Linked DNA regions of Homo sapiens: region 2 is reported to be linked to region 1. The links are microRNA targets in miRTarBase. Many come from high-throughput screens and were not tested one by one. Region 1 holds a microRNA gene; the other region holds the end of a gene's coding sequence.

Evidence for each region. The annotated mature microRNA hsa-miR-4264 reads ACUCAGUCAUGGUCAUU and lies in region 1 at 3,039-3,055, opposite strand. An mRNA with a match to its seed (bases 2 to 7 or 8) in the 3' UTR can be bound and repressed. Matches are read on the target gene's strand: a 7mer-m8 pairs with bases 2 to 8, a 7mer-A1 pairs with bases 2 to 7 and ends in A, and an 8mer does both.
Region 2: miRTarBase lists AP5B1 as a target of hsa-miR-4264. Seed matches in the 3' UTR shown: 7mer-m8 at 4,230-4,236 and 7mer-A1 at 4,743-4,749.

The regions. Positions count from the first base shown.
Region 1 is chr2:79,646,295-79,653,559 of GRCh38, forward strand. It overlaps MIR4264 (microRNA 4264), which reads right to left and starts at 3,065; the gene lies at 3,000-3,065. It overlaps CTNNA2 (catenin alpha 2), which reads left to right. Exons shown (of 19, transcript NM_001282597.3): 2 at 5,258-5,364. The coding sequence starts at 5,263.
Region 2 is chr11:65,772,226-65,779,225 of GRCh38, reverse strand. It overlaps AP5B1 (adaptor related protein complex 5 subunit beta 1), which reads left to right. Exons shown (of 2, transcript NM_138368.5): 2 at 1-5,328. The coding sequence ends at 1,370. Among named protein-coding and RNA genes, the nearest start is that of AP5B1, 5.2 kb to the left of the region's middle. RefSeq lists an enhancer at 977-1,881.

The DNA.
Region 1 (7,265 bases):
AAACAAGCCCCTTAACCCTTGGCTGCTTCACAGAGGAGCCCATTTTACTCTGACTTTTCTTTTCTGTCAGGTTTTGTATTTTCTATCATGAGTGACAAATAGCTGATAGCATCCTGGCCTGTGCCTCTTTCTTACCACCACAGAAAGAATATGAAATTATCTGAAGTATTACCAGGTGGGCTGTATTATTACCTTACATGGAAACACAATTTAAAACTTTTCTTTCTGTCTTTTTTTTTTTTTTTTTTTTTTGAGAAAGGATCTCATTCTGTTGCTCAGGCTGGAGTGCAGTGGCACAATCATGACTCACTGAAGCCTCGACATCCCTGGGCTCAAGTGATCCTCCCACCTCAGCCTCCTCAGTAGCTGGGACTACAATATTGTGCCACCATGCTCACCTAATTTTTGTATTTTTTGTAGATATTGGTCTCACTATGTTGTCCAGGCTGGTCTCAAACTTCTGGGCTCAAGCAGTCCACTCACTGTGGCCTCCCAAAGTGCTGAGATTACAGGCATGAGCCACTGTGCCCAGCTAAAACTTTTCACGAAGAAACTCTCCTCAGAAATTCAAATTCTAGGAGCTTTCTCATAGGCTTGTAACATTGTGCTGTATGGAAGAAGACAAACTTGTTGTCTTTTGTTATTTACAATCTTGTTTTTCACTCTTTGACTGTATCCAGTCTGTATTCTAAGTCTCTCTACCAAAGGTAAGTAAAATATAAATTTTTACTTTGAATTCAAATCAGTGAGAAGAAATTTATTTGCTTTATGTAAATTTTCTTTTGTGGGCAAACAGACGGTATTAATTGCACAGATGGGATTGAGACTATATATCATTTTATCCTCAGAAAGATGAAGGGCTCGTGAGACTGCACACTTGATCTGTTCTCTTGTTTTCTCGTTTGTGTCAATTTGGTTGTTCCACATAGAGGAGTGTAAATCTGGATCTCTATTTTAATGAGTGTTTACCTGTTACTTCAGAGATAAAGAATTGCCAAAAAAGGAAATTTAAATTTGGGAAAATAATGACAACATAACAATAATAACAAATATTTCCAGGAATGTTAGCATGCTTTCTATCCATTAAGTTATTTAATCCTCACAATAAGCCTATAAAATCCTTATTATCCTGATTTTTCATTTGAGGAAACTGGGACTCAGAAAGGGCAGGCAATTGAACAGTATCACAGAGCTAATAAATTGCAAGGCTTCAAGTTTTTTTTTTCAGTATACGTTCCTTATTTGTTTATTTTCAGTCTTTCCCTCCAGAGTGTGATCTCTGCCGAGACAGCAGATATTTTTGCTGGTTTTGTCCACTGATGTAGCCCTGCTACCTAGAACAATGCCTGGCCCAGAGTATATGATAAATACTTGAATGGCAGGGCTTCAATTTAAACAAAAGTCTATTTGATACCATTGTGTTAGCTATTGCTGATTAATAGTTAATGGCAAAATCTCAGTGGCATGCAACATACAACAGCAGGCATTTACTTCTTGATCATGTGTTGATGGTTTGGTTGGGAGTTGGCTGACTAGGCTTAACTTAGCTGTGCTTGGCTCCAGCTCCAGCTCGGATTCAGGTGTGCTCCATGTGTCCTTCTTTCGTTTTGGACCAGTAGGTTATATGTGACTCTTATGGCAGAAGGCAGTAGCACAGAGGAGAAGCCCAATTAAGTAAGCACATTCCAAATGTCTACTCACGTCATATTTCTTAACATTCCTCTAGCCAAAGCTCAATAGCAATGGAATAGGAAAATATTCTCTTCTCATGGAGGTGAGGATGGGAAGGAAATGACTATTTACTGAAAAATCCTCCAATCTACCTCAAATGCCTGTGCATTTTCTCTGTCCTTCCTAATTCATAAATATTGAATGTACAGGCGGGATGACATTCTCAGTTAGGAGTCACCTTATTGTGTGTGCTTGTCAGAGGGGCCACATACCAAATCATCAATTCATATTTTCTGACTACCATTGCCTCCCTTTTTGCTCTAGAGGATGTTTGACTCATTTTGCCTTCTCTGCCCTAATTTGTTCATACTAGAACTCTGGAGGCAAAGATCATTAATGAGTGATTCTAGAAGACTATGGTTATGATTACTATCCTGGAACAGAATCTTTTTTTTCTGTTTTCATGCAATTCCAATTGGCCAAGGGATTTTTTAAGGAAAATGTTCCTACTACAAGGTCTAATACAGACAGCAGAAAGCAATCCAATGTTTTACAAGTAGCAGGACATGCAGGATGGGAATACTTTTTCTAGAAACAGCAAACTGTAAAGATGATACCAGCTGAGGTATCACAGGCAGGGGAGCTTCTTACCTTCTTCTACCTTGTGCTCAATGGCTGATATGAAGCTAAAATGCCCCTTAGAGGCAACTCAAAGGGAATCTTACATATCAACATCATGGGTTTAGAGGTGGGGATTTTGCGGTCCCCACCACCACTCCTTTTGTTCATTGCTAATGTGGTTAGTAAACTAAATGGTGAAAAGATTATGGGGTAGAGACAGAATTCCTGGTTTTAGTCTCAACTGTATCAGAAACAGCATGGCTGGAAAACAGCATTTCACATTTCTATGACTTATTTTTCCACTTCAACAAATTAGTACCGTGTAACCTTTTCTTTGCTACTGAATTTTACCTTTGTCACAAGAAATGACTAAAAAGATTGATCCTCAAAGGAATAAATTAATTTGAGTGATTTGTCTGGGAACTATTGTTCTTTTATTTTTAGAGTTAGAAGGGCTCTGTGACCTTCAGGACTGAAGGCCCTAACTAACACTTGCTTCTTGGCTCATAGTTGGCTTGAGATCTTTGTTTAAGGAGTATCTTTCACTTCTGCTTGATGCATGCTAGATTCATGTCTCTGTTGTGACTTCCCCAGCATTTTTGTGTCATGTTTTAAAAGTTACATAATGGAACAGCTATAATTTTATGTGCCTTCCTTGATCTATCAGCGTATGTCTACAAGCATGCCCATGTTATAATGGAAATTCTCTATGCAGTCTTACCCAGTACCTGTCACTATCATGTTACAATGACCATGACTGAGTATCCAGCTTTCCTACAGAACTTCCGTGTTCATCATCATTATTATGCCACTTGTGATTCCATTAGAGTTTGAAAAAGGTTCTCAGGGAACTTCTCCAGAAACTTGCAACAGCTGTATCATAAGTACTGGACTAAGATCACTTAGGTAGGTCTGGCTTCAGTAGGGATGAAGGTATCCCAGTGTCTGCAGGAAGCATCTGGCATCTTTATCCTTCTATGGCATGAGAAGGTGTGTTGCCCAGCGGCAGAATTCTGTATATGACAGAGCTGCTCTATGGCAGTTGGTAGTGTGAATGGAAAATGTGTAAAGTGTTTTTAGGTTTTTGGAGGACAGGCAGCATGTCGGTGCCAACTATTGTTGTGATGAAGAAACCCAAATCTAAATCGGTCTGTATGGTTGGATTGCTATGCTTAGTTTATTTAAAACATGGCATTTGGAGAGAGTTAAAATACCAGCACACTGTGTCTTTGCCTCTACTTTTTTTCTGAAGCAAATTGGTTGGGTCTATTTGCAAAAGCTTTAGCTGTAAGAGAGCCAGTAAAGAGGCACATTTCTACTAGTGCCTATTGTGATAGGCCTTCTTTGTCGTGTTAATTCTAGTAGAAATAATCATCTACATTGATTTATAAGGTTGGAATTGAATGGGGACATTGATTCAAAATAAAAGAACAGCCATGGACATTTTGATTTATGTTGGTATTAAGGCAAATCATTCAGATTCGGTTTGTACAATCTAAGGTTGCTTGTCCAGTGGTTAGATGTCAGAATGTATTTAGCAATTTCTTGATGAAAGAAACAAACCCCTGATAGAATGTATACTTTTTCGGGGGGGGGGGGGGAGGGGCTAGAACTGTAATTTTTTGCTTGTTGTGTGGAGACTGCTACCTGCATGTCAGTGGTTCTTAGGTAAGAGAGGATTGCTTTAGAGTGAAATAAATAACCTTATCAGTCACTGATTTTATGGGACAAGAATGTAAATGTAGTGAGTAATCAGAGAGCATGTAAATAGTAGCAGATAATTTTTCAGAACATTGGCACTTAGTTTGAAGATGTCTTTCATATTTAAGAGACTGAAACTCTTGTCCCAAGGAGTATGATATTCTCAGGGGTCAGTTATGATGTGAAGAAAAAAGTAGCCTTTTGTTATAAAGGGGTTCCTACATCTAGTAATCATTGGTGGATTTACTTTGCTTCCTGCTATTCTTTGTTGTTCTCTCCAGACTGACATTGATGCCCCTTCCTCACCTCTCCCATAGTCCTCTCTGTGTTTCTTTTTTTTTTTTTAAATGTATTTATTTTTATTATACTTCAAGTTTTAGGGTACATGTGCACATTGTGCAGGTTAGTTACATACATATACATGTGCCACGCTGGTGTGCTGCACCCACTAACTCGTCATCTAGCATTAGGTGTATCTCCCAATGCTATCCCTCCCCCCTCCCCCCACCCCACAACAGTCCCCAGAGTGTGATGTTCCCCTTCCTGTGTCCATATGATCTCATTGTTCAATTCCCACCTATGAGTGAGAATATGCGGTGTGTGGTTTTTTGTTCTTGCAATAGTTTACTGAGAATGATGATTTCCAATTTCATCCATGTCCCTACACAGGACATGAACTCATCATTTTTTATGGCTGCATAGTATTCCATGTTAAAAAGTCAGGAAACAACAGGTGCTGGAGAGGATGTGGAGAAATAGGAACACTTTTACACTGTTGGTGGGACTGTAAACTAGTTCAACCATTGTGGAAGTCAGTGTGGCGATTCCTCAGGGATCTAGAACTCTCTGTGTTTCTTAATCACAACATGTGTCACACTGAGACCTAATTGTTCCCATATTTGGCTATCTCTAACTTTAAACATTAAGCTACTTGAAAGCAAGACTGAAACCTTTCGCAGCATATAGCAGATAGGTATGCATACTCATTGTTGAGTAAATGAAATATTTCAGTGGCTATTGGGTCCCAAAAGCAGGCCTAAGGTACACCAGTATGCTGAGGAGGCCTCAGTTTTTAATCTGATTCCAACATTGCCACCTCACAGTGTACTGGTCTGGTTTTTCCATCTCTAATTTGACCAGGTTGGACCAGAGAGGCTATCTTCCAGTATGTTCTAAGTTTCAGTGATTTACCCATTTTGAATCACCAAAGTTACAATTTATTTCAAAGATGATTATTTCTAACTGATTACATGTGTTCCCATAGGGAGCATGACTTCGGCAACTTCACCTATCATTCTGAAATGGGACCCCAAAAGTTTGGAAATCCGGACGCTAACAGTGGAAAGGCTGTTGGAGCCACTTGTTACACAGGTAAGGGATGCTTTGAAACCACTTTGTTATATATGTGTTTCTATTGTGATTATATCCTGACTCTTGGAAAAACTTAGACATCCTTAAAAGAGAATAAATCATGCCATGATTCCGATTACTGAATATATATTACTGCCTGAACTATGGGCAATCTCATTGCCCTATAACATTTGAAGTGGCTTTTAAAAACTATTTGTATGATTTTTGAAATTAAGTTGATGAGATAATTGAAGAGGGGTCCTTGGTGAAGGGGGCCCTCATTTACGGTAATGGGTTCAAAGTCTAAATAAACTATTCCTCCTGCACTTTCAGATGCTAATGCACCATTAGGAAAAACTGTGTTGACTATACAACAGCAATGTATATTTATTGAATTACTTTTCTTTCAGTTTACAAAGCAGAATTCATCCTGTTGGAGTGATGAGATGTTCCATTTTTGTGTTGTCACAGTTGTCACATTTCCACAAGATAACGGTCAACAGAAAAATATCATCAGGATTTTTAAGTGTTATAAGTTATTTTTTAGTGTCTTGTTAAGCATGCTCTTTGCTATTTTAACTCTGAGATTCCTGGGATGTGATTTTTTTTTTTTTTTTACCAAATTATAATAGAGGCATTTGTATTGTCCTGTGGCTGCTATAACAAATTCCTATCTACTTAGTGGCTTGAAGCAGCACAAATTTATTATTCTAGAGGTCAAATATCCTAGTCAAGGTATTGGTTGGCTTGCATTCCTTCTGGAAGCTCTAGAAGAAAATCCATTTTCTTGCTTTTCCCATCTTCTAGAAACCACATCACTTCTTTGACCCCTTTCTCTATATTCAAATCCAGCAATGTAGCATCTTCAAATTTCTCTTGCACTCTGACCTTTGCTTTTGTCCTTGCATCCCATCTCTGAAATTGTCTTTCCTACTTCCTTCCAATAAGGACCCTTGTGATTATGTTCGGTCCACCCAAATACTCCAGAAAAATCCTCCCATCTCAAGATCCTTAACCCAATCACATCCAAAAAGGCTTCTATTGCCATTTAAGGTAACATATTTACAGTTTCCAGGGATTTGGATGGAGTTGCTTTGAGGACCATTATTCAGTCTGCCATAGTTTGCCCTCTGGCTCCCCAAAGATTCAGATCCTTCCTTTATGCAAAACACATTACACCACATTCTCAGGTCTCCAAAAGTCTCAACCAATCATAGCATCAACTCAAGTTCAAAATATCATCTAAATTTCATCAGCTTAAAAGTCCCAAATCTCATTGTCCAAATTATTTAAATTAGATATGGCTGAGGATCTCTTTATAATCTGTCCTTGAGCAGAGTTCCTCTCCATCTGTGTAGCTGTGAAACTACAAAACAAATTATATGTTCCCAAAATGCAATGGAGGGACAGGCATAGGATAACAGTTACAGACATTCCTACATAAAAAGGGATAAAGTGGAAGGAAAAAGGAGTTGCCAGTCTCAAGAAATGTAGAAATCTACATGGGAAAATTCCATTAGATTTCAAGGCCTGTGAATAATCCTCTGTGGCTTGAGTCTGCTCTCTGGGCCTAGTTCAGAATTATTTCTTCATTTTCATGAAGGGTTGCACATATTTTCAACCAGGTATTCTTGTCATCCATCTCCTACCTGTAGAATTTTGAGTGTCCATTCAGCCTTCGTGCATTTCATCCCTTTTCTGCCTGTATCAGTCCAAGCTGATGGTGTTACCACCGTTGTAGGATTCTCAAGAACATTGTGATTTTACTATGCACATCTCCAGGATTCACTCCATTAGAAAAACAGGCTCCTCTACAGATCTTTCTTGGATAATTTCATCTCCATTTTTGGCCTCTGTTGAAGTGGCTGAGGGGATCCATGAATTACATGCCTAATCACTTCAAAGAGCCCTCCTTTCACTTG
Region 2 (7,000 bases), not on the chromosome of region 1:
GTGCCGAGGAGGAAGAAGAGGAGAAAGGCCAGCTTCCAAGCCCACGGCACTACCTGGAAGAGCTGCTGGCTGGCTTGCGGCAGCGGGCAGCCCTGGATGGGGGCCCCCGGGCCTTGGCCACTCTCTGCTTCCAGGCCTCGTATCTGGTGGCCTGCTGCCTGGCTGGGCAACCTACGGTGCTGACCCCCTTGATCCACGGACTGGCCCAGCTGTACCAAGCCCGGCCCATGCTGGCTCCCCACTTTGTGGACCTCTTGGATCAGGTGGACTCTGAGCTGAGGGAGCCCCTGAAGGTGGTGTTGCGGCAGGTGGTGGTGTCCAGGCCGGGCAGGGATGAAGCTCTTTGCTGGCACCTGCAAATGCTGGCAAAGGTGGCAGATGGAGATGCCCAGAGTGCTACCCTCAACTTTCTACAGGCCGCGGCTGCCCACTGCACGAACTGGGACCTACAGCAGGGCCTGCTGCGGGTCTGCCGGGCGCTGCTGCGGGCAGGGGTGAGGGGCGGCCTGGTCGACTTGCTGCAGGTGCTGGCCAGGCAGCTGGAGGACCCTGATGGGCGTGACCACGCCCGCCTCTACTACATCCTGCTGGCACACCTGGCAGCACCCAAGTTGGGGGTGGCCCTGGGCCCCTCGCTTGCCGCACCTGCACTGGCCTCTTCACTGGTGGCCGAGAACCAGGGCTTTGTGGCAGCACTGATGGTGCAGGAGGCACCGGCCCTGGTACGGCTGAGCCTGGGGTCCCATCGGGTCAAGGGCCCACTCCCAGTGTTGAAGCTCCAGCCGGAGGCGCTGGAGCCCATCTACTCTCTGGAGCTGCGCTTCCGTGTGGAAGGACAGCTGTATGCACCCCTGGAGGCTGTCCATGTGCCCTGCCTGTGTCCTGGCCGCCCTGCCCGCCCTCTGCTCCTGCCTCTGCAGCCCCGATGCCCGGCCCCCGCACGGCTGGATGTCCATGCCCTTTACACCACATCCACTGGTCTCACGTGCCATGCCCACTTGCCACCCCTGTTCGTGAACTTTGCCGACCTCTTTCTGCCTTTCCCGCAGCCTCCAGAGGGGGCCGGGCTGGGCTTCTTTGAGGAGCTCTGGGATTCCTGCCTGCCAGAGGGTGCTGAGAGTCGTGTGTGGTGTCCACTTGGGCCACAGGGCCTGGAGGGCTTGGTGTCCCGCCACCTGGAGCCTTTTGTGGTGGTGGCCCAGCCTCCTACCAGCTACTGTGTAGCAATCCACCTGCCCCCGGACTCAAAGCTGCTGCTGCGGCTGGAGGCGGCCCTGGCAGATGGAGTGCCTGTGGCCCTGCGGACCGATGACTGGGCCGTGCTGCCCCTGGCGGGGGACTACCTCCGTGGGCTGGCGGCTGCTGTCTGAGCCCCGGGAGACCAGGTGGGGGCAGGACTGTGGCCCTTGTGGGGGCCAAGGCACACTCCTGTAGCTCTGTCGCCAAAACCCTGCATTCCGCAGTGCCCTCGCTGGCTTGTTTTCTTTTGGGCCCCGGTTGGGAGCAGGCTCCTGGGGGTGAGGGTCTGTCTGAGTCTGTTTTTGCTGCTCTAGCAAGATCCCTGAGACGGGGTAAGTTATAATAAACAGAAATGTATTGGCTCAGAGCTCTGGAGGCTGGGAAGTCCATAGTGGAGGGCCCAGAGCCCAGTGAGGACCCTTCTGCATCTTCCCATGACAGAGGACAGAGTGACAGGAGTGAGGGGAGAGAGCGAACCCACTCCCAAGATAACGGCCTGAGTCCACGCAGGAGGGCAGAGCCCTCGTGGCCTGACCACCTCTTAGGGTCTAATCTTATACTGTTACAGTGGCAATCGCATTTCAACGTGAGCGTGGGAGGGGACAAACATTCAAACCATAGCAGGGTCATAGGCCCCAAGAAGGCTTCCAGACAGAACCCGGCACTGTAGAGCTACAGAGTTCCTTCTCACCCAGACACACTAGTGCTCTCCAGAATCTCTGCCCAGGAGGCAGGGGAAAAATCTCCTTTCTGCTTCCCAGAGAGGGTCTGGCCTTGCCCAAGGCCACTCAGTGATTTAGGAAGAAGGCTGAAGCTAGAGTGTGGACCTGACCTGTTGGACAGTACTTTTCTTTCTTTTTTTTTCGGGGAGGGGTTAAAGACAGGATCTCACTCTGGCGCTCTGGAGTGCAGTGGTGTGATTAGGGATCATTGCAGACTCTGCCTCTCAGGCTCAGGTGATCCTCCCATCTCAGCCTGCCTCCGAGTAGCTGGGACTACAGGTGTGAGTCACCACTGTATTTTTTGCAGACAGGATCTCCCTGTTTCCTAGGCTGGTCTCGAACTCCTGGGCTTAAATGACTCTTCTGCCTCAGCCTCACCAAAGTGTTGGGATTACTGGTGTGAGCCCCCACACCTGGCCGAGCCAGCGCTTCTCAACTCCCAAGGTTTGCAAGCTCCCTGCCCCAGGGAGCTCACGCCAGGCAGGCCAGTGGGCCTAAGCCAGAAACAGAAAGACAGCAGTGGCCAGGTGGAGAGCTTCCCAAGCTGTGCCGATTAGAGCCAGCTCTAGGAAGGGCCTGCTAATAAGGTCTAGGGTCTGAGACCAAGTTTTTTCTAATCTCAGCCCCTAAGAAACCTAATTTGTGCTTAGGAATCTTCCCAGGTAAGAAGAACTAGTTCCTCTAGTTGTTGTTTTTTTTTCCCAAACATGCAAACACTGAGGATTGAGCTGTGTGGGGTCAGCTGTGCTGCCAGGCACATGTACGTTGCCTCATTTCATCCTTGCAACAGCTCTGCAGGGCCCCGCAGATGAGGAAATCCGTAGGCAGGAGCGGTTGAGTGATTTTCCTAAGGTCACCCAGCTGTTTGGTAATAGTGTTTTGTCATCTGGTAGCAGGTTTCCATTACCATGCCATCAGAGCAGACCTCAGCCAGGGCCACAGAGGTCCCAACCGTCTCTGCCCTCTTCTGCTGCCCCTGCCTCATGGGCTCCCAGCCACAGGTTCCCCATGGGCCAGCTTTACGCCTCCTGATCCTTCCGATTGGGGCAGACTAGGAGAGGAAAGACGGGCCTGGGCTGGGTGCGGTGGCTCATGCCTGTAATCCCAGCACTTTGAGAGGCTGCGGCGGGTGGATCACCTGAGGCCAGGTGTTTGAGATCAGCCTGGCCAGCATGGCGAAACCCTGTGTCTAATAAAAATACAAAAATTAGCCGGGCGTGGTGGCGGGCGCCTGTAATCCCAGCTACTTGGGAGGCTGAGGCAGGAGAATTACTTGAACCTGGGAGGCAGAAGTTGCAGTGAGCCGAGATCACGCCACTGCACTCCAGCCTGGGCGACAGAGCAAGGCTCTGTCTCAAAAAAAGAAAAAAAAGAAAGGGCCTGGGACAGTGGTACTGTTAATAGGTGGAGTCAGGAGGCCTGTCTCAAACTTGAGATGTGGCAATAACTTGCTTTGTCACCTCGGCAAGTCATTTCCAAATCAGGAAGGGGTCAGTTTCAGGAAACAGAAACTTCTCCAGCTGTTTTTGGCAGAAGGGGATTTAAGGGAATCAGGGTACTTAAAGTACATGGGAAGGCTGGAGAAGTCGCCTCCAGGAAGCTCCCACTGGAGCTGGGATCAGAACGTACTGTCCTGCCTGCCATCCCCTGTAAGCACCCAGGAAGCTGGGCTTGGGCCCTGGGACATGGGGTGGGACTGCCACTCCTGCCTCCTGACACCCACAAAGCCAGAAGCGTGGTGCTGCTGCAGAAGGACTGAACATCTCCAAGGCTGGGCCCGCAGAGCAAACTTCCTTGGCCCTGTGTCCTCCATCCATATCCTTCAAAGGACACCTCATTAGTGGACTCCATTTCTCTCTTCCACGGAACTCCAGTGGCAAGGGAATCCAGAAACGTTTTCTTTTTGCCTGGAGATGCTAATCCTTAGCCTAAGAATAAGGAAACTGGTCCATGTAAGGACTGACCATCCTTTCACCCATCTGTCTGCCCACTTGTGCATCCATCCCATTTTATCCATCCATTCCTCCAGTTGTGGACACCAGATGACTTTCAGCTCCCCCTACCCCAACCAGAACTTTGCTGCAATGGCCATTCTTATATGCCCCTATGGACCCATGGGACAATTCTCTGGGATACATGCTAGGAGCAGAATTGCTGAATCATAGGGAATGCATGTGCTTAGCTTGGCTAAGCAATGTTGGAGTAAAAGCTTTTGGTTTTGCATCTTCTCAGCACTTCTAGGGAGGCACCAAAAGGGAGGATGGCACTGACTGAGCCCACCTGAGATAGCTCCTAGACCCCAGCCCTCTGTGTCCTCAGAATCACACACTGCTGCTCATCACTTCAGCTTCCCGAAGATCATGGCAATAGCAGCATGCCTGTAACTGTCCCAAGTACAACCAAAAATTCTTCCTAAAGAGAGGGAACCAAAGTCACACGGGTCACCTTGTCCACCTGTGTGGACGTTGCTCATGTTCACATACCCTTCCTTGCCTCCTTCAAGGCAGGTCTGGCCACAAGCCCAGCTCTGGCTAATGAAATGTGAAGGGAGTCAAGGGCCGGGGGCGGTGGCTCACACCTGTAATCCCAGCATTTTGGGAGGCCGAGGTGGGTTGATTACCTGAGGTGAAGAATTTGAGACCAGCCTGGCCAACATGGTGAAACCCGTCTCTACTAAAAATCCAAAAATTAGCCGGGTGTGGTGGCGTGCTCATAATCCCAGCTACTCAGGAGGCTGAGGCAGGAGAATCGCTTGAACCCGGGAGGTGGAGGTTGCAGTGAACTGAGATTGGGCCACTACACTCCAGCCTGGATGACAGAGCAGGACTCCGTCTCAAAAAAGAAAAAAGAAATGTGAAGGGGTCAGTTTTGGGGCAAAATATGTCATTGCCAGTGCTCAATTTTCCAGCCCTCTCTTCCTCTGCCATGACCGTTGGGGAAGTACATGTTGAGATGGAGGTGCTAAATAGTTGAGTCATAATCTCACCTGGATACGCTGTAACAAATGCCCTGGATTATCAAATCAGTTATGTAAACTAAAAATCCTAAAACCCCACCGACTGAACAGATGCCACCTCGTGGCCGAGGGAATCTCAGAAAAAACTTAAAACAATTCCTGGCCCTGATGGGTTGGGAGGTCAGATGCAACTTGTTATACCCCATCCCTTTATGGTTTAGACACAGCTGCCGAGCATGAATGAACAAAATAGGGATCATGAGATGGACAGAACAGACACTGTGGCAATAAGATACCAAATTGTAAACAGGACCTAAGGCCATGCCAAGCAAGGGTTAAGTCATGTAGAGCCCACCTTCATGCCCCGCCTCCCCTGCCCCCAACTTATGAATAAACTATGTTCTAACTGCACAAGGTTTTTTGTTTTTGGTTTTTTTTTCCCTGTAGCAGCTAAAAAGCTTAAAAACAAAACAAAACAAAAACCACTTTTTATTTTGTTTGTTTTGAGACGGAGTCTTACTCTGTCACCCAGGCTGGAGTGCAGTGGCGTGATCTTGGCTCACTTCAACCTCTGCCTCCTGGGTTCAAGTGATTCTCCTGCCTCAGCCTCCTGAGTAACTGGGATTACAGGTGTCCGCCACCACACCCGGCTAATTTTTGTATTTTTAGTAGAGATGGGGTTTCACCATATTGGCCAGGCTGGTCTTGAACTCCTGACCTCAGGTGATCTGCCCGCCTCAGCCTCCCAAAGTGTTGGGATTACAGGCGTGAGCCACCGCACCCGGTCCAAGCACTGGCTTTGAGATAAGCAATATTAAAAACATTTTCAGCTTCATCAGATGCTGACTAACTGACCTCCAACCACTGTTCCACCAGCCATAACTACAGCTTTGGTTGGACAAGTGACTGATTTCAGTAACTTTTTCCTGACAAGGTGACTACCCATCATGGACTGGTTCTGGCTGGCTTACAGAGCTCCTGCACTTGCATGTCTTTGTGTCCTGAAAAGACCTTTTGCCATATAGGGCCTAATTATAATACATTTAAATGTTAAGTCTCCACCCCAAAGTGACCATGGGTTGTATGTTGCATGCATGTTTGTTCAATATGCATGTGTCAGAACCACTTTCATGAATATTCATAGCTCCTCATGTAACCTGTTGAATGTGTATGTTTAGTCAATCCATTGAGCATGAAGCTCCTACCCTAACCCCTCCTTCTTTGAAGTGCCTGTCTCTGGTCTTGGCTGGAGACATGCTTCCCAGCAGGTCTCACTCCCTTTCTGAGGCTGGAGTGCAGTGGTGCGATCATAGCTCACTACAACCTCAAACTCCTGGGCAAAAGTGATCCTCCTGCCTCAGCCTCCGGGGTGGCTAAGACTACAGGTGCATGCCACCACACCTGGCTAATTTGTAAAATTTTTTGTAGAGATGGGTTCTTACTATGTTGTCCAGGCTGGTTAAGGCCTCCTGGGTTCAAGTGATCCTCCTGCCTTGGCCTCCCAAAGTGCTGGGATTATAGGTGTGAGCCACCAGGCCCAGCCTAACCCTTTATAAGAAATAAAGTCTCCTCTCAAAATTTATAAATTGTGTATCTTTTCTTTTTTTCGTTAACAATTATCAATAATACACTTTATATGAAACAAGGGAAAAGATGGGGAAAGATATCGGTTAATCTCTATTTTACATGCAAGGAAGAAAGTATGAATCTTTTGTGCAATGAGTTACGAGGCCCTAATTAGGGTTCCTAGGTTTAGCAAATAAAAATATTATATAGGATGTGCATTTAAGTTTGAATTTTGGAGAAGCAATGAATTTTTTAGTTGTTAATAGGACATACTTACACTAAAAAACCAGTAGTTGTTTCTCCAAGGTTCAGATATAAGTGGTGGGTTTTTTTTGTTGTTTTTGTTTTTTTCTTTTTTTTTTGAGACAGTCTTGCTCTGTTGCCCAGTCTGGAGTGCAGTGGTGTGATCTTGGCTTACTGCAACCTCTGCCTCCTGGGTTCAGCCTATTCTTGTGCCTCAACCTCCTGAGTAGCTGAGATAACAGGCATGTGCCACCACACCTGGCTAATTCTTGTA